Homo sapiens: one gene and its partners. The protein of the gene in region 1 interacts with the protein of each later gene in a pairwise test. Each region holds a gene or a part of one and is shown in the gene's direction. Other genes may lie near its edges. The genes, in order: PDGFRL, TBC1D2, FBP2, MAPKAPK3 and ZNF510.

What was found.
Region 2: the proteins of PDGFRL (region 1) and TBC1D2 interact in a two-hybrid assay, tested with the Homo sapiens proteins (one large-scale study listed by BioGRID and IntAct).
Region 3: the proteins of PDGFRL (region 1) and FBP2 interact in a two-hybrid assay, tested with the Homo sapiens proteins (one large-scale study listed by BioGRID and IntAct).
Region 4: the proteins of PDGFRL (region 1) and MAPKAPK3 interact in a two-hybrid assay, tested with the Homo sapiens proteins (one large-scale study listed by IntAct).
Region 5: the proteins of PDGFRL (region 1) and ZNF510 interact in a two-hybrid assay, tested with the Homo sapiens proteins (one large-scale study listed by BioGRID and IntAct).

What each region holds. Positions count from the first base shown.
Region 1 is NC_000008.11:17,580,211-17,583,725, forward strand, and holds part of PDGFRL (platelet-derived growth factor receptor-like protein precursor), read left to right. Parts: intron 1-3,515.
Region 2 is NC_000009.12:98,221,142-98,224,656, reverse strand, and holds part of TBC1D2 (TBC1 domain family member 2A), read left to right. Parts: intron 1-3,428; coding exon 3,429-3,515. UniProt on the Homo sapiens protein: Acts as a GTPase-activating protein for RAB7A. Signal effector acting as a linker between RAC1 and RAB7A, leading to RAB7A inactivation and subsequent inhibition of cadherin degradation and reduced cell-cell adhesion.
Region 3 is NC_000009.12:94,591,012-94,595,324, reverse strand, and holds the start of FBP2 (fructose-1,6-bisphosphatase isozyme 2), read left to right. Parts: upstream 1-1,500; 5' UTR 1,501-1,598; coding exon 1,599-1,768; intron 1,769-4,313.
Region 4 is NC_000003.12:50,637,641-50,641,155, forward strand, and holds part of MAPKAPK3 (MAP kinase-activated protein kinase 3), read left to right. Parts: intron 1-2,725; coding exon 2,726-2,865; intron 2,866-3,515. UniProt on the Homo sapiens protein: Stress-activated serine/threonine-protein kinase involved in cytokines production, endocytosis, cell migration, chromatin remodeling and transcriptional regulation.
Region 5 is NC_000009.12:96,775,281-96,779,560, reverse strand, and holds the start of ZNF510 (zinc finger protein 510), read left to right. Parts: upstream 1-1,473; 5' UTR 1,474-1,527; exon of another isoform or gene 1,528-1,979; intron 1,980-3,315; 5' UTR 3,316-3,491; coding exon 3,492-3,561; intron 3,562-4,280. UniProt on the Homo sapiens protein: May be involved in transcriptional regulation.

The sequences.
Region 1 (3,515 bases):
TTATTGTCTGAGAGCAATATAGCCAGATCTCTAAGAAGGTAAGGACAGAGACACAATGACGAGGATTCTCTAACCAAGAGCCTTTGACACTTTCGTGTCTTCGTTTATTTTTGAGAAAAAAAAAGAGTAAAAATTAGTACAGAAATATTTTAATGAAAAAAAGAATTCTAAAGTTCCTTATTGTTTATGAATGCACATAATGAATGCTTTGAAGCATTTAGGATCTTGGCTGGCATGTTTGACATACAAAACCATTTCTGATCCTTAAAACACAGAAAGAGAAAAGTTTGAGGGCAAGAGAGAGAGATCTGGTGGTCAGAGGACTGATGGTTTTCAAACCTAGACAAGGTTTTAAAACCCTTTCTTTGTGGTGCTCAATGAAGGGAGAGGAAAGATAAAGAAGTAAAGATACAATTTAAGGAAGTGGTAAGTGGCATCGAGAATCATGAATCAGGGTCTATTAGGTTCCTAGGGCTGCCATAACAAAGTACCACGGAATGGGAGGCTTTAAAACCGCAGAAGTTTGTTTGCTCACAGTCCAGAGGCTTGTAGTCCAAAGTCAGTGTCAGCAGCACCACACAGCTTCTAAGATGCGGGTAGAATCCTTCCCTGCCTCCACTAGCTTCTGGTTGTGGTCAGCAACCCCTTGGCATTTTTTTTAGCTTGTGGCCACATCACTCCAATCTCTGCCTCTGTTGCCATGTGACCATCTTCTCCCCGTGTCTGTCTTTACATGGCATTTTCATACGTGTGTGTGTGTGTGTCTCCTCATAAGAACATCAGTCCTATTGGAGGAGAGCCTACCCTAATGACCTCATGCTAACTTGATTACATTTGCAAAGACTCCATTCCTCAATGAGGTTACATTCACAGATACCTGGGAGTTAGGACTTCAGCATATCTTTTTAGGGGACACAATTCAACCAGTAAGACAGGGTGAGACATGGAGAGGACTGAGGCGGGGTGTGAGGATGCCGTTTGAATGGATAGCCATAAGCCTGCCTGAAACAAGGAAGCAAACCCCGGAGGTAGCTGACAGCAAAGCTGTGCACTCCAGGGGCACCACAAAGGCAATAGCTTCAAGATGGGCTTGTACCGGTTGCCAGTGTGGCTGTGGCTGTGATGCGTGGGACGGGAGCTGGCCAAGCCTTGTAGGGCATGGGAAGATTTAGGGCTGGCTTCTAGATGAGATGAAAGTCACTGGAGGCTTCTGAACGAAGAAGTACCCATAATTTGATTTATGTTTTCAAAGGTAGGTGCTATGGTTTGCCCCCACCACATCTTATGTTGAATTTTGATCCCCCATGTGGTGGTGGTGGTGGGAGGTAGGGCCTCATGGGAGGTGTTTGGGCCTTGGGGGTAGATCCTTCATGAAGAGATTAATGCCTTCCCTTGGGGATGTGTGGATTCTGTATTATTTCCAGCAAGAACTGCTTGTTAAAGAGAGTCTGGTCCCTCCTCCTCCCACCGCACCATGTGATCTCTGCACTGCTAGTTATCGTTGCCCTCTGCCCTGAGTGGAAGCAGTCTGAGGCCTTCATTGGAAGCAGATGTTGGTTCCATGCTTCTTGTACAGCCTGCAGAACGATGAGCCAAATAAACCTCTTTTCTTTATAAACAACCCAGCCCTACGTATTCCTCTATAGCAATGCGAAATGAACTAACACAGAAAATTGGTACCAAGGAGTGGGATATTGCTATAAAGATACCTGAAAGTGTGGAAGCAGCTTTGGAACTGGGTACTGGGCAGAGAATCGGAAGAGTTTGGAGGGCTCAGAAGAAAACAGCAAGAGGAGGGAAAGTTTGGAATTTCTTAGAGATTGGTTATATAGTTGTGACTAAACTGTTGATAGAAATATAGACAGTAAAGTTCATGCTGACAAGGTCTGAAATGGAAACAGATAACTTATTGGGAGCTGGAGAAAAGTCACCCTTGTTAGGCCTTAGCAAAGAACTTGGCTGCATTGTGTCCATGCCCTAGGGATTTTGGAAGGCCACACTTAAGAGTGATGTCCTAGGGTATCCTAAAGAAGAAATTTTTAATCAGCAAAGTGCTCAAGTAGTGGTGGGTGTGGCTGGGTTTAAAAGCTTAGGATCAGCCGGGCAGGGTGGCTCACGCCTGTAATCCCAGCACTTTGGGAGGCAGGCGGATCATGAGGTCAGGAGATCGAGACCAGCCTGGGCAACATGGTGAAACCCTGTCTCTATTACAATACAAGAAGTTAGCCTGATGTCGTGGTGCGCACCTGTAGTCCCAGCTACTTGGGAGGCTGAGGCAGGGGAGTCGCTTGAACTCGGGAAGAGGAGATTGCAGTGAGCTGAGATCAGGCCACTGTACTGCAGCCTGGTGACAGAGTGAGACTCTGTCTCAAAAAAAAAAAAAAAAAAAACTTAGGCTCAAGATCAATTACAGCAGCAAAGGAATGACCTAAAGGTAGAATTTATTATGAAAAGGGAAGCAGAGAGTAAAAGTTTGGAAAATCTGAAGCCTGGCCATGTGGCAGAGAATGAAAGAGCATTTTGGGAAAAGAATCCAAGGGCACAGTTGAGAGACTGCTTGAATCATGCTAGTAGCTAAGAAAATAAGAGAAAGGCCTTATAGCCATTTTGGAAATCTTTGAGGAGCCCCTCCCATCCCAGGCCCAGAGACTCAGGAGAATAGAATGGTTTTGGGGGGCAGGCCCTGCTGCTCTTCTGCCGTGCACCACCTCGGGATGCTACTGCCCCTATCTCAGGTGCACCAGCTCTAGCCTTCACTTAAAAGGTCCCAGGTGTGGTTCCAGATGGGCGAATAAGAGCAGAAGAGGCCAATAAGCAGAACAGAGAGGTTGCTCCAGAGGGCACAAGTTATAAATAAACCTTGGAGGCTTCCACATGTTGTCAAGTCTGCATATTCCCAGAATGCAAGAGTGATGGAGGCTTAGCTTCCACCTAGATTTCAGAGGATGTATCAGAAAGCCTGAGTGTGCGAGCAGAAGCCTGCTACAGGGGCAGAACTAACACAGAGAGTCCCTACCAGGGCACTGCCTAGGGGAGCCATGGGAACAGGGCTCATGTGGGGATCCCAGAATTAGAGAGCCACCAGCAGTATGCACCCTCACCTTGGAAAACAAACAGACATTCAACTCCAACCTGTCAGATCAGCCATGTGGGCTTCACCCAGCCAAGTTAGAGGGGTGGGGAGGGCGAAGGCTTGTTTTTGATTTTCCAGGCTCACAGCTGTAAGGAACTTGCCTCAAGCTCAGATGAGACTTTGGACTTTTGAGTTGATGCTGGAACAAGTTAAGATTTCGGGGACTATTGGGAAAGGATGCTTGTAATTTGCAGTATTTGAAAGACATGAGTTTTGGGGGGCCAGAGGTGCAATGCTATGATTTGGATATTTGACCTCCTCCTAACCTCATGTTGAAATTTGATCACCAGTGTTGGTGGTGGGGCCTAATGGGAGGTGTTTGAGTCGTGGGGGTGGACCCCTCATGAATGGCTTGTTGCCCTCCTGGAGGTAATAGAACTAA
Region 2 (3,515 bases), on another chromosome or scaffold:
ACAACTTATGACCACGTATCAAAATCTGAGATGAACCAAACAACTCGATTGAGAAATATTAAAAGTACCACTTGGGCCGGGCATGGTGGCTCACACCTATAACCCCAACACTTTGGGAGGCCAAGGTGGGAGGATCTCTTGAGCCCAAGAGTTCAAGACCACCCCGAACAACATAGGGAGACCCTGTCTCTACAGAAAATAAAATAATTAGCTGGGCAATGTGGTGCATGCCTGTAGTCCCAGCTACAAGGGAGACTGAGGCAAGAGAATCTCTTGAGCCCAGGAGGTTGAGGCTGCGGTGGGCCGTGATTGCGCCACTGCACTCCAGCCTGGGCAACAGAGTGAGACCCTGTCTCAAAAAAAAAAAAAAAAAAAAGAAAAGAAAAAAAAACACTTCAAAAAGCTTAATTTCATCAACCCCTCTATTTTTCTTTTCTTTTCTTTTCTTTTTTTTTTTTTTGAGATGGAGTCTCGCTCTGTCGCCCAGGCTAGAGTGCAGTGGTGCGATCTCAGCTCACTGCCAGCTCCGCCTCCCGGGTTCACACCATTCTGCCTCAGCCTCCTGAGTAGCTGGGACTACAGGCACCCGCCACCACGCCTGGCTAATTTTTTTGTATTTTTAGTAGAGACGGGGTTTCACCATGTTAGCCAGGATGGTCTCGATCTCCTGACCTCGTGATCCGACCGCCTTGGCCTCCCAAAGTGCTGGGATTACAGGCGTGAGCCACCACGCCCGGCCCAACCTATTTTTAAGAATTGGTCCTAAGACATTGCTTATAATCCAGACTTTAGGTTTCTTGAATTCATGACATTCTCACTCCTCATCTTACAAGTCCTACTGAGGCTCCCTCCCTCTGCCCTGGTTCCGTTCTTTTAAGCCTATTTTATTCTGGTACAAGAATTCTGGGGGTGGGAGGAGAGCCTCCTGGGCTGGTGTCTCAGTCTTAGATTCTGGGAGCCAAATGCGGGAAGGAGACAGCTAGATGTAATGAAATAAGCTTCAGAGTCAACTAACTCCCCAAATTGAGGGAAAGACACCCACTGGTCCTGCTCCTAGGGCAAGTCTGAACAATGATGTCTGTTGGTTATTTCCCTGGGCAGTCATCCAAGGTAACCTCCAAATCTCAGCTGAAGCAGAAAATGGCCTAGGCCCCCAGTTTTCCTGGAACCACAGGAATGTTAATCTCTCTCCACTGAGCCCTGAGAAGCTGACTTCTTCATTCTGGACGTTCCAAACATTCCCTTTTGGTTTGCAATCACTGTGCTGTCCTCACCCCAACTTCCTGCCACACCCCAGGGCTCCCACAGCTCCATGGTAGCTCTTTCCTTCCTCCAGGTCTTTACTGGGGCTGTAGCTTGGCCACATCTGGAGGGCCATCCCCACCCTCATCTCCCACCTGCTGCTCGACCATCTCTGGCCCTTCTCATTCTTCACAGTTTCTTTTAAATGCTCTGGACTGGTATTCCCCACAACCTCCACCCCAGACAGAAGTCATTGCCTTTCCCACAAACACCCTTGTTCCCCTGACTTGCAGTAGATCATTCCACTGTGGTGGGTCATGTTCATTCCCACCAGCCTTTGCAGTCCTTGGAGGTGGGAACTCTCACCACTCCCTCTCTGGGCCACGGCACCTGGCTCAGGGCCTGGCCTGGCACCGAGTGGTGCTTGGTAAAGGTTGGATGGATGGATGGGCATGTGGAAGGAAAAGAGAGAACCAGAGAAAGGATGGTCACTAGTCCTAAGGTTTCAGAAGATGCAGGCTAATGTGGTCTTGTCATTAGCTTCTCCAAAAAAGTCATGGTTTTTGGCAGTTTTCCTCCAATATAGAATTGTTCTTAGCAAATAAGGCTATCCAGCCAATCCACTCATTTTAATACTTTGGTGTGGTATAGTTGACATGTCTCTAGGAAACCATGTTTTTCCAAATGAGAAGCACAGAGCAGGGCAGTGTTGCCTGAAAGTCATACCTACCTGGTATTAGTTCCACGTGGACCTGGCTGCTGATGTCCTGATCCTGGCCCAGAACAAATTCACATCCCTGCTTTGGGACAGATAGGCCTGAGTCCAGGCGTGGCCCTCCCTGGGGAAATTACAGGCTTAAAGGCACAGGGAGCTGAGCAGACCTTGAGTTCCTGTGTGAATTAGTTGCCCCTGCTGAGGAATAAATCAAGCTCTATTGTTTCTGAACTTTCTAGAGTTCCTTCCACCAGCTTTGCAGGCATCGGCTGGTGGGCTGAAGGTAACTAGGCACAAATGGCTTGAATGAGGTCCTCTGTGTGTGGCTTTACATGGGGATTGCCAGTGTATTTCCTCTTTAACCCTGACTCAACTTGATTGGTAGTGACTGGCTGCTATATTGAGAATGATTCTGAGGCCTCAACTAGGGTAGGCTGTGCAGGAAGAAGTATGGGAGATTAATTAGTGATGTCTGCCACAGGGATGAGAGGGAAGAGTAATGCCACATAGCTGCCACCCCTGGTTTTCTTAGTTACTGAGCACAGGCTTTGGAATCTAGCCAATTGAGATTGAATTCCATTCTACTCTCTGCTGGGCCTCAGTTTGTTCATCCCTGAAATGGATGTGTATATGTCAGGGTATGGGTTCAGCTGCTGTGACAAAAACATCTCCACTGGGTGTGGTGACTCATACCTGTAATCCCAGCACTTTGGAAGGCCAAGGTGGGCAGATCATTTGAGTCCAGGAGTTTGAGACCAGCCCGGCAACATGGCAAAACCCCTTCTCTACAAAAAAATACAAATATTAGCCTGGTGTGTTGGCATGTTCCTGTGGTCCCAGCTACTTGAGAGGCTAAGGTGGGAGGATCAGCTGAGCCCAGGAGATTGAGGCTACAGTGAGCCATGTCTGTGCCACTGCACTCCAGGCTGGGTAACAGAGGGAGACGCTATCTCAAAAAAAAAAAGTTTCAAAGCACTGTGGCCCAAAACGAGTGAGAGGTTTCTCATTCACATTAAAGAACCCAGAGGTAGGTGAGCAACTCTGAGCTGGGGGGCAGCCCTTTCTCAACATGTACCTTCTGCTGTGGGTCTGAGGCGGCCACTCTAGTTCCTGCCACTTCCCAGCCAGAAGCAAAGAGAACTGGACCAGAGGAGCGTGTATCTAGTGGTTTTAAAGGTAGGACCCAGAAGCTGCCCATCTCACTTTTCATTTCCCATTTAGGCAGAATAGTTACTTGGCTACACCTCACCATGGCTTGGCTGGGAGATGCAGTTTTAAGCTGGGGAACCATGTGCCCAGCTAACAGTCACTTGAACAGAGAAGGAGAAAGTGAGTGTCAGGATGAGATGCCGCAGGGATGCTGCTGGGCACCTCTCACGGTTGTTAGGAGAACTACTGATAACATATACCCCACTGTGGCGCCCAGCAGGCCCTCCCTGAGCTCACAAGATTCTTCCCTCTCCCTGCCCAGGAGCTAGTGAAGATCCTGCACAAGGCACTGGAGGCCGCCCAGCAGGAGAAGCGGGCGTCCAGCGCATACCTGGCGGCGGCTGAGGAC
Region 3 (4,313 bases), on another chromosome or scaffold:
GCTGAATGAACACCAGCCACCACCTCCTAGTGCACTCCTGGTCTATGAGGAAATAAACCCCCACGTGTAAATTGCTCTAGTTGTTCTATTTCTTGCAGCTGAACACATTCTAATCGACATAACTGTCAGGGGAAAAGACCTTCAGAGAAATGTGCATGTTGTACTGTTTTGTGAAATGAGATTATGTATGATTGCACAATAGTTGTGAGCACATTGAAAGACTGGAAGGGCGGCTGGGCGTGATGGCTCACGCCTGTAATCCCAGCACTTTGGGAGGCCGAGGCGGGCGGATCACGAGGTCAGGAAATCGAGACCATCCTGGCTAACACGGTGAAACCCCGTCTCTACTAAAAATACAAAAAATTAGCCAAGCGTCGTGGCAGGCGCCTGTAGTCCCAGCTACTCGGGAGGCTGAGGCAGGAGAATAGCGTGAACCTGGAAGGCGGAGCTTGCAGTGAGCCGAGATCACGCCACTGCACTCCAGCCTGGGCGACAGAGTGAGACTCCATCTCAAAAAAAAAAAAAAAAAAAAAAAAAAAAACTGGAAGGGCAATAATAGGTAACAAAGTACTGAGCACCTACTATACTAGGTACATCTCATTGCAGCCACTCTATAAGATGGATGCTTCACGGTTATGCTCATTTAAGAGTGAGACAACTGAGGTTCCAAGGGGTTTAATAACTTTCTCAAATCATGCAACCAACAGATAGCTAGCTTGGGACTCACAGCCAGGTCTGGCTGGCCCTAGAGAAAGTGCTTCCACCACCATATGCACCCCACCAGTGCCTACTGGCTGCACAGACCGCCACCAGCCCTAGCAGCAGTGATTTCTGGAGAGTGGGATGGGAGAATGGGCTGGTGGTGAGGAGGTTTGTCTTTATCCACTTCTTTAGTGTTTCCTTTTTAACAAGCAATTTTTGTTACAAAAGTGGACATCCAGAGATATTGACAAAATAACACTGGTGCCAGGAACTGTGCTAGGAATATAATAGTTTTCTTCCGGATCTGGATCTCTACTGTGGATATCCACTGGTCATACATGCCTACTGGAAATAAAAAGCATTCTTTCCTAACTTATTCCAAACCCTGGCTAAAGGAATTCTGGGGTTGCCATTATGTTACTATGTGACCTACGTCCCAGATAAGGAACCTGCGAATCTGCCACCTCCGCCCTCGGGAGAGCCAGGCCCTGCAGTCACTATATGTGAAGAATCCTTTGGAGCCTGGAATAAGAGGGTTTTATGCATCATTTTTTAATCAACTGGATTTCTCACCTCCCACCTGTGCCTAAATGGTGGCTTCTTGGTATCTTGAAAGGGGGTGCTCAGCAGGAGAAAGCAGCTCCATGTTTCTGGGCAGCCCGTCCTATTTACAGACTGCTGCGGCTCCCTGGCAGCTGCCACAGTCCCCGAGGCCAGAGGGAGTTCCTTGAGGGCCCCAGCAGTTGTTTGAGTCATGTGTTTTGGGCCCTTTTCCTTAGAGATCCTGGCAGGGCCAGCACAGATTTCTTATCGGCTTCCACACTGCGGAGCTGCAGCCCTCAGAAGTAAGCAAGGTTTCCTGCCGGGAGAAAAGGATTTGAAGCATTCCAGCCAAAATGACGGACAGAAGCCCCTTCGAAACCGACATGCTCACCCTGACCCGCTACGTTATGGAAAAGGGGCGTCAGGCCAAAGGGACTGGGGAGCTCACCCAGCTGCTGAACTCAATGCTGACGGCCATCAAAGCCATCTCCTCGGCTGTGCGCAAGGCCGGTCTGGCCCACCTGTGAGTCCTGGGGAGCAGGCATGGGGCACAGAGCACCCCAGGCCCAGGCAGGGGTGTGGGAGCTGCAGGTGCTTTGGCAAGAAACTGGGTCCAAAGCTTATTGGCCCTGTGTGCCCTAGATGGAAGCTGCATTTCAAGTTCCTATCATGTGTGCTTTGATAAAGGGGCCTTTGACTTGTTTTGAGAAAGGAACGAAAACATGCTATGAAGAAATACACATATAATTTTTCCAGTTATTATAATGATACCAAGTGCAGTGGCTTGTTGCATTAAAATATGTATTGTGTTATCATGACTTGTACTTGCACAGAGAGAGTCTCACTGGAACAAAGAAGTAGAGGGGTGACGTGAAATATCTCTTTATGCCTCTTGCAGACATGAGTGTTTTATTGTAATAAGCTTTGCAAATATGTTAGGAGCTGGAAATTATGTACGACATAGGAAGCTTGGTAGAGCCCCTTCCTGCATCTGCTCTCTCATCATCTAAAGGAGTGTTTTGCTGGCTACGTGTTTTATTTCTTCTCTGTGACTCTTTCTTTATCTTCACCTCCACTTGGTGTGCAGGAAGCCGGGAGGTGCTAGTCCTGGGAGGGGAGCGCAGAGGTTTCTTCCACAGGGTTCTCTTTGGTGCTTTATCCGAGCATAGATGAGGCCAGGTTCACATTACACTGCTGATGGTCACAGCCCAGTGTCCAGTTTAAGTCTGTAATAAAAAGAATCCGGTGGCCAGGCACGGTGGCTCCTGTCTGTAATCCTGGCACTTTGGGAGGCCAAGGTGGGTGGATCATGAGGTCAAGAGATCAAGACCATCCTGGCCAACATGTTGAAACCCTGTCTCTACTAAAAATACAAAAATTAGTTGGGTGTGGTGGCGGGCGCCTGTAGTCCCGGCTACTCGGGAGGCTGAGGCAGGAGAATCGCTTGAACCTGGGAGATGGAGGTTGCGGTGAGTCGAGATCGTACCACTGCACTCCAGCCTGGGTGACAGGACGAGATTCCATCTCAAAACATACAAACAAACAAACAAAACCCCAGCTTTCTTTGGGCTTCCCTTGTAGTAATTCCAGGGGAGGTCCTCTCAGGAGCTGAAGGAACACATATTTTGGGGATGAAAGAGACTCAAAATGAGGAGCTAACAAAGTCCAATCATTTAAAATATTTACTCTGAGCAATTAAGTGCTTTTAACACAAAAAGTGATAGCATTAGATTACAAGATGTAATTATCATTTGATCACCACAGACTGTATTTATTTAGGGGTGGTGACCCAGTAGCAGGACCCAGGTTAACGGTGCATTATCCTTGCTTTTTTCCTGTGGGTGGATGCTTCAGCTCTGTTTTTACCTCATTTGGCAATAACAGCCACGCTCTGCATTTAATCGCCTTCCAGAATGTGAGGGCAGGCGGTGCCCTGTTCTGCTCCTGTGGGTGACAGCCCTGCTGAGTGACGGTAGACAGGGACTTTGCCTCTCCCTGTGCGGACCCTGCTATCCTCAATGCGGTTGCCTGAGTCCATCTCAGGGTGATTCATCCACATAAATTGGGCTCCCCCTCTGTGCAGGGCTCTTGGCTAGGCAGTGGCTGCCATGGTAGGGGTCTTGCTTATCTGCTGCAAAACTCTGACTTTATGGCGGTTGAGCAAGGAGACAAAGTGGCCCTAGGAACTGGATAATTGAGGTGCTTATTAATTTGGCATTTCCTACCGTGTGATAATGGGCGTGATTTACTCTTGCTAGGACCTTAGATTCCCTTTGTGAAATGGAGAGTATAGTAGCATCCCTAACTCTTAGGGTTGTTGCAGAGTTAGCGAGCGCATGTGATGACGATTTCAACTGTGCCGGCCCCGTAAGACACGCACAGTGCCTGTCACTACCGCGGTTCCAAGCCCAGACCAGATTTGCCTGTGCCTGAGCCGTCAATGACCACTGGCGGCATTTGAGGAGCCTTTCAGCCCCCCACTGCACTGTGGGAGCCACTTTCTGGGCTGGCCAAGGCTGGAGCCCACTCCCTCAGCTTTCAGGGAGGTGTGGAGGGAGAGGTGCGAGCGGGAACTGGGGCTGCGTGCGGCGCTTGCGGGCCAGCTGGAGTTCCGGGTGGGCGTGGGCTTGGCGGGCCCGCACTCCGAGCAGCCAGCCAGCCCTGCTGGCCCCCGGCAATGGGGGACTTAGCACCCGGGCCAGTGGCTGCGGAGGGTGTACTGAGTCCCCCAGCAGTGCTGGCCCACTGGCGCTGCGCTCGATTTCTCGCTGGGCCTTAGGTGCCTTCCCGCGGGGCAGGGCTCGGGACCTGCAGCCCGCCATGCCTGAGCCTCCCATCCACTCCATGGGCTCCTGTGCGGCCCGAGCCTCCCCGACGAGCGCCACCCCCCGCTCCACAGCGCTCAGTCCCATCGACCACCCAAGGGCTGAGGAATGCGCGCGCACGGCGCAGGACTGGCAGGCAGCTCCACCTGCAGCCCCGGTGCGGGATCCACTAGGTGAAGCCAGCTGGGCTCCTGAGTCTGGTGGGGACGTGGAGAGTCTTTATATCTAGCTCAGGGATTGTAA
Region 4 (3,515 bases), on another chromosome or scaffold:
AAAAAGAAAAGAAAAAGAAAAAAAGGTGCTGGGAGGACTTTCCAGAGAGAGAAAGAGAGAGAGAGAGAGAGAGAGAGAGAGAGATGGAGACAGAGAGAGAGAGAGATTGATCGATCTGAATTGAGCCCTGAAGTTTCCCCAAAAAGAGGGAGTTGACCCAACAGAGAGGATGAGGCAAGAATGCACATGACAGGGACCAGCACAGACCTAGACACAGAGGCCTGGGGGAGTAAGGCCTGTTTGGGAACAACATATATATTTTTCTGGCCAGAACAAAGTGGTTTTGGCCCAGAGGTGGCAGGAAGTGAGGTGGGAAAGGAAGGCAAGCCCTGCGTGCTGGGGGAGGACATTTATCTGGAAGATGTGAGGAAGTGTCTGTGGCCACAGGTGGATTAGAGTCATAAGGGGAGAGGCAGGGCTGAGGACCCTAATGAAAGCATTCCAGCTGTGAGCTTGGACTTTTAAGAGAGAAGAGGAGGACTCTGATGTGGGAGTGAGATGCCACAAGGCAGGCAGTGAGGAGGGAGTGTGGGAGCCAGCCTGGGAGGCCTGACAGGAGATGGTCAGGTCAGACTGGGGAGGAGAGAACCAGGCAGGGGGAGGGGGAGGAGGCAAAGAAGGAACCCGGTGCAGGGAGGGAGGATGGTACCTCTTGGCTCCTGTGGCTGAGGATTGGGGTACCCCTAGCTAGGGCCGCCACAGGACATGGTGGAGGCAAGTGGGGGGCACTGAGCTTTCTGGTCCCAGTGCTGAGAAAGAAGCTGGTGATTGGGAATTGTGCGGGCACTAACCTGAGGGGTGTTCTGGAAGGCAAGGGCAGCATGAGCAAGGATCCATGGTGTCCAGGCAGGAGTGTCTGCCCACAGCAGCCTTGACGCACACCCCCAGCCTGCTCTGGGTAATGGAGCAGGGGCACAGAGCTGCTAGAGGGCTTGTCCAGCCCCTGGCTCTCTGTATTCCTTGCACTGCCTGTATTCCCAGGCTAGGGTTGAGGGGAGCAGCTCCAGAAAAGGAGGGACAGCCAAGGGGCAGCAGGCTCGAGAAACCACTGCCTGCCTCTCCCCTCTCTGGGACACTGCCCTGACCCAGTTTGTCTTTACCTAGAGAGCGTGCATGGTCACAGAGCCTGCCCCTAACAGTGCCCTGTGTAAAGTGGCCTGGCTCTCCCCATCCTGCAGAGGAGGAAATTAAGGCTGGGGCAGCCCAGGGTCCTATGGCTGCTGAGCAGTGCTGATCCGAGCCCCGGTCTTGAGCATCAGCCCTGGTCCCCAGCCCTCCTCCATTAGGAAACACAGTGTCACAGATGGTCCTTGAGTGAGCAACCCTTTTTGGGGGTGGCTTGTCCCTGCTGTCCCCATTCTGGGCCATCTCCTCATGCATGCTGACTTCTTCTTCTCCCCCTACAGCAGGGCCACTGTGAGGCCTTGTTCATTTCTGGTGCTGGTTGGCAGCCACAGTCCAGGGCTGAGTTAACCCGAGCAAGGATCCTGATGCCCGCCCACTGGATGCTTGCCTTGGCTGGGATGCACCCTGTGGGGATGACTCTGCTATTATACCATTTTACAGAGTTGTGGGCTGCAGCTTGGAGCTGTGAATGTATGCCTGAGGTCACACCGAGTCATTGGAGGAATTCAATCCCAAACCCACATCTCACTCCACTCAGCTGTCATCTCCCTCAACTAGGGTCCTCCCTTCCCCCAGTCTCTACCTCTGGGTCCTTACCGGTGATCTGTAAGCATGGAATGAGGGTGGAGGCTGGGCAGCTAGGTCACCTTGAGATGGCCCCACCTCTCTCACAGTGCGATGACATTGTCGCCCTGGTACTGCATAGCAGCTCCCAGGAAGGCTATAAAGTTACCTTGGGAGCTGGGTACTGACTGGGTGGTCATGACCAAGCAACTCATTTTAGAAGCACTTTTCTTGGTAGTGAGAGTTTTGTTCTCATGCCCACTCCTGGAGAATCTGAAGTCTTAATTACTTTTACCCCTACAGGAGTGTGGCCTTGTCTCCCTCCACTCTGGGCCAGTTTCTTTGTGGGAGATAGATTGACAGACACAGGCCTCAACCTCTCCTGCAGGAAGTCTTCCTTCTCACTCCAGCACTCTCCTGATCATGCTGAGTCCTGTAGGGCAGATTTGCGTGTTAGTGCACCCTCTCCCCTCCCCAGCCTTTCCCCAGCACCTTCTGCTTCTACACTTACATTTCTCATAGATGCCCAGGGTGAGAATCACAAGGGAGGCACCAAGGGCCTACTATGTACCAGGTGCTATCCTGTACAATTTACATGTACAATTTCCAACCCTAGCCTAGGAAATGGAACAGCTGTGTCATCCTTATGGTAAAAATGAGGCTCAAGGGATGTGTGGCCCCTGGCTTGGGGTCCCATGGCTGCTGTGTGATTAGAGTGGGGTTATAAAACCCACTCAATTTCCATCTGAGAAGGGAAGCAAGGGCTTCTTTGGCCTCTGAGCCCCTCGAAGCAGTCAGCCACCTCCTACGGACTCCTTGAACTACCTGCCAAGCTGCTTGAGCCCAGGACTGACCCTCAAGTCCAGAGGCTCACTGGACCACAAGTCAGAGAAACCTAGATTCAAATTCTCATTCTGCTCCTTATAAGCTGTGTGACCTGGGGCAGGTCACAGGCCTCAGAGCTTATATGTTTTTGTCTGCAAAATGATGGTAGAGGGCTCTGAGCCTGACACTTTCTATGTGCACCCACCTACAGCTCCTGTATGACAGCCCCAAGGCCCGGCAGGAGGTAGACCATCACTGGCAGGCTTCTGGCGGCCCCCATATTGTCTGCATCCTGGATGTGTATGAGAACATGCACCATGGCAAGCGCTGTCTCCTCATCATCATGGAATGGTATGCTGGCCTGCCCTGTCTCCACACCCCCTCGGCATCCCTGTGGCCCTCAGGCTCCCTGCCACGCTTCTAGGGGCTTTCTTTGTTTTTCAGGTAGCAGATCTGGGTGCCACTGTAGCCCCTGAGGGGCAATGGAGCAGGCAGCCGCAGGCCCTGCCTGTGGATCTATGGAGTTGGCCATAAGGACATTCCCTCAAGGGTGGGCAAGAAACCACAGGGGTTAATATGGCCTCCCTGAGTGTGATTTCTACTCTGTGAGGAGGACTGGAAGAGCTGTCAGAGAAGGCTCCCAATCCCTGAATATGGATGGATGGGGGATTTGGGGAAGAACAGGACCCACGCAGTTCCCTCAGCTTTCTCTCCTTTTGACCTGGGTATGTGCTCCCATGGTCCCACCAGGAACTGGGTGCTTGGGGCCTAGAACCAGGAGCCAGTGGCCTTTTCCACCCTGGGCTTCTTCCTGTAACACCATGGCTCAGCACCAGCCATCCTTGGACCGGTTAGCCAGTTCTTCAGATTTGGGGTTCAGATCCTGCCTCTGCTACCCACTAGCTATGTGACCGTGGGCAGCTCTTAACCTCTCTGAATCTCTGTAACTCAGATGTAAGATGTGGGAAAGATCTTAATGTAGCATTTACCCTGTGCTTGAC
Region 5 (4,280 bases), on another chromosome or scaffold:
ATACTTAGAAAACATAGATGATTAGAATTTTTAAAAACAAATGTTAGTCTTTTCCTCCAGTATCTATTAAAGTGTTTTTCAGTGTCAACAGTAAAATTTTATACCTTGATTCATATATACTGCACTAGTTTACTGTTGCCATTAATCTTTTTTCTTGCTAATCAAAACTTATCATTGCCATATAAAATAACCTGTTAGAAAGTATCAACCGTGTGTGTGTGAGTGTATGTGTGTTACTAAAAAGAGTGTCATAAAATACTGTGCTGAGAGGTTCCTAATTTGGTTCCTGATTTCAGAAGCATACCACATAAGATTTAAGCAAGCTCATCTCTAGGAGATGCATAATTTGTGGATAACGGTTTTCTTAGTTGGGATTGTGTGTACTTCAGGTATTATGTAATGCTGAACAGCTTACTTGCTTTTTCTTTTTTTCCCCCCAGAGATAAACTGAGGATCACAAATATTATTCTTTTATGTTAATAATGGTTTCCATTTTCTAGTATTTGTTACATTTTACGGCTTTATTCACAAAGCTGTTTATGTATTTTTGTGGCAGCTCTAAGTTAAAAGGCACACTTGTAACATTACAGTCCCAATTTTCCCTTTATCAACTTTATATTATAAAATTTTCCAACACATAGTCAATAAGCATGTCCATATTCTAGAAGTAGATATTCTTAACATTTTGCCATACTTCCCATTTCTAATTATTTTTTAAAAAGAACTTACAAACGGGCCGGGAGTGGTAGCTCACGCCTGTATACCCAGCACTTTGGGAGGCCAAGGCAGGCGGATCACTTGAGGTGAGGAGTTCGAGACCAGCCTGGCCAACATGGTGAAACCCCGTCTCTACTAAAAATACAAAAATTAGCTGGGCGTAGTGGCGGGCGCCTGTAGTCCCAGCTACTTGGGAGGCTGAGGCAGGAGAATCGCTTGAACCCGGGAGGCGGAGGTTGCAGTTAGCCGAGATCGCGCCACTGCACTCCAGCCTGGGCGACAGAGTAAGACTCCGTCTCAAAAAAAAAAAAAAAAACCAAAAAACCCAAAAACTTACAAACATAATACAATCCTAAATACTTACATAGACATCTCTTTATGAATAAGCAAGATTACCTACATAATCCCAATGCTGCCACAATTAATTAATAATTCTAATTTCCAGTCCGTATACAAATTTTCCCAATTGTTTTCAAACGTCTTCCGCGGCTCTTGCTTTCTGTAACCACACGCTGCATTTGCTGTTATGTCATCAAGTCTAACCCACAACCTCTGGGGCTCTGACAGAACCCGGGCTCCAGTTATCAGGACGGTCCATGTTATTACGCCATAAATCTTGGGGGAAAAACAAACAAAAAAACACTGACAGCTGGCGCCGTACTGCATGTGAAACGTAGTCTTGCATGTTATGGGTTACCGCGCAGCATGCTGGGAACGGATATGCGCGTTTTCGTCTGCGCATGTGCAGTCAACCCCACTTTCCGGCTTCTCCCTGTTAGTGTTTGCTGGTGCAGAGGGTTCGCAGCTCAGGTGAGAGCGCCGGGCCTCCACGCGGATTGCGGACCTGCAGGGAGGGATGTGCTAGTGTCCAGGGGGCGGGAACGCGACGTCCCGGGAACTCCCCCAAAGCAGGCCGTCGCTCCCTGTGCCTCGGCCGGCCCGGGACCTCAGCCTGAGAAGGGCCGGTGGGGGCGGGCTCCGGGGGCGTTAGGTGGGGCTGAGTCCTAGTTGGAAGATGCTCGGTGCGGGCCGAGGTATGGGCGCCAGAATGCAGCCAGGCGTCGGAAAACGCGGTGCTGGCTTCAGGAGGGGAATGCGCGTTTATTGTATTGACCATGAACCTGCCACAAAGCGCGTACAGCCCGTGGGTCTGCGGTGAGAGGCCGAGCCTAGGAGCTAGAAGGACCTCGTGAATTTTGGCTCTGTCACTTGAGCGTTTGAAAATGAGGATATTAGTAAAAACTGCTTTGTGTCGTTCAGAGGTAAGCCATCCCCTGTAAAGCATTTAGCTAAGCGCTAGTTACTAAGCAGCATGTAAATGTTGATTCCCGTTATATTTGGAAGACACTTTGTTCTTTTCATGTAGTATTTCGTTTAATTCTCACAACCACCCTATTTATATCATTAAAAATGAAGAAGGAGGAGTGAAAAGATAGAGCCAAGCTCACAAAGGATGAGAGAGCTAGGATGTCAATACATAAACACTTTACTCCCCGAATCAGGCTGTTTGTAATGGCCTACCTACCTAACCCAGCATTGCAGCCTTCACAGCACTGAGTGATTGTCCCCAAAACCCCAGGACAATGATTGTGAAGTCAGTGTGGACAGAATCTTACTATGTGGCAAGTGTATTTGTTGTGGGGTTTCTGGGATGTCTCCAGAGCCTCTGGGTTAGACTGAGGCCCCTGCCACCTCCTGTGCTGTCCCTCCTGTCTCTGTCTTTAGAAGTCAGTCTGATATTCTAGGGCAGTGAAGATGAGTCACATACGTAATTTTAAATGTTAAACTAGTAGCTACATGAAAATCTAAAACATGAAATTAATTTTAAGAACATACTGTGGTTTTCTCAGTGTATCCAAAATGTTATTTCAACATGTGGTCCTAGCCACATTTCCAGTGCTCAGTAGTTGATGTGATTGGAGGCTGTAGTCATGGATAGCAGGGTTCTAATTAATGCCAAGAGAATCAGGTTTAAGGCCTTAGGTCACTTCTTCACCAGGAGGATTTTGCTCCCTAGGGAACTTTGGAAATGTTGGAGACTTTTTTGGTGGGGGGAGAGGGGACTGAGTTTCTCTCTGTCGCCCAGGCTGGAGGGCAGTGGTGTGATCTTGGCTCACTGCAACCTCCACCTCCCAGGTTCAACTGATTCTCCTGCCCCAGCCTCCCAGCTTGTAATCTCAGCTGGAATTACAAGCATGCATGGCCATGCCCAGCTAATTTTTTGTATTTTTAGTAGAGGTGGGGTTTCACCATATTGGCCAGGCTTATCTTGAACTCCTGACCTCAGGTGATCCACCTGCCTTGGCCTCCCACAGTCCTGGGATTACAGGCGTGAGCCACCACGCCCGGCCTGGAGACGTTTCTGATTGTCACAACAGGGAGAAGGGGTGTCCTAGTGTCTAGTGCATGTTTAGAAATGCTCTTAAACATCCTGCAATGCACAGGACCACTCCTTATGTCAGAGGATTATCCAGCCCAAAATGGAAGTTGTGCTGACGTGAAGAACACTGTTTTCCATGAAAGTTTCAACTAAAATAAATTTGTTACCCAGGCATCAGCCCCAGCTTCTCTGGAGCAAAGCAGCTCTTTATGTTGCAGGAAGGAGGGAGCCCCAGGAACAGGAGTCCCACCGAAGAACTGCTCTCTGACAGAACAGAGACCTCCTCACCAGGGCTTCCAAACAGATGCAGAAGAACCCAGAAAGGAGCAGGTCTTGATTTGCCCAACCAGCGGCACTTCTTCATCCCCTTGCCCAGAGAGCACCAGACTTGGTGATGTCGCCACATCCAGAAGCCATCACAGATTGTGTGACACTGAACACTGTGGGCCAACTTGCAGAAGGTGGTAAGCTGGGGTTGAGAGGCGTGGGTGACTGTCAGACTGCACAGGAAAAGCCACATTACTGGAGGGCTTTTCTCCATGGTCTCCAAGGAAGGCATAACCAGCCAGGGCTGAGGAAATTGTCTCTAATCCTCCTCATAGAGCCCCCATTTTCTTCATTCTTGCCTCACTCTTTCCAGATTCTGAGTCACTCTCACACAACATCCATCACATGTAGCATCTAGAAATTTACTAAGGTTGCCTCTATCCTGAACCTGTAGAATCACAAAAATGATAATACAGGAAAGGATTTCTATTTCTGACTCTTAAAACCTTAAAAAGTATTGAACCTAGGATGAACAGTTTGTCCATGGTCACTCAGGACAGAGCTTGGAGCAAAGCACAGTGCTGTTCACTCTGTCACAGGTGAGTCACCAGAAGTGTCTTATCGAAAGTCTTTTGAGAAACTATAAGTTAGAACAAAAATATTTTAAAATAGTCTTTCAGCATCTCCTTTTTTTCAGTTTTGTGTTTTCTATTGGTGTAAATAATATTAACAGAATATTAATGTTAATTCTGTTTAAGTTGTTAGTCAAAGAAGACATACATTTTAAATAAATCAATAGGAAAATAGTCTACAATCGCCTGATGAAAAACAGCAAGGGGCCAGGCCTGGTGGCTCACCCCTGCAATCCCAGCATTTTGGGAGGCCAAGGCGGGCAGATTGCTTGAGGTCAGGAGTT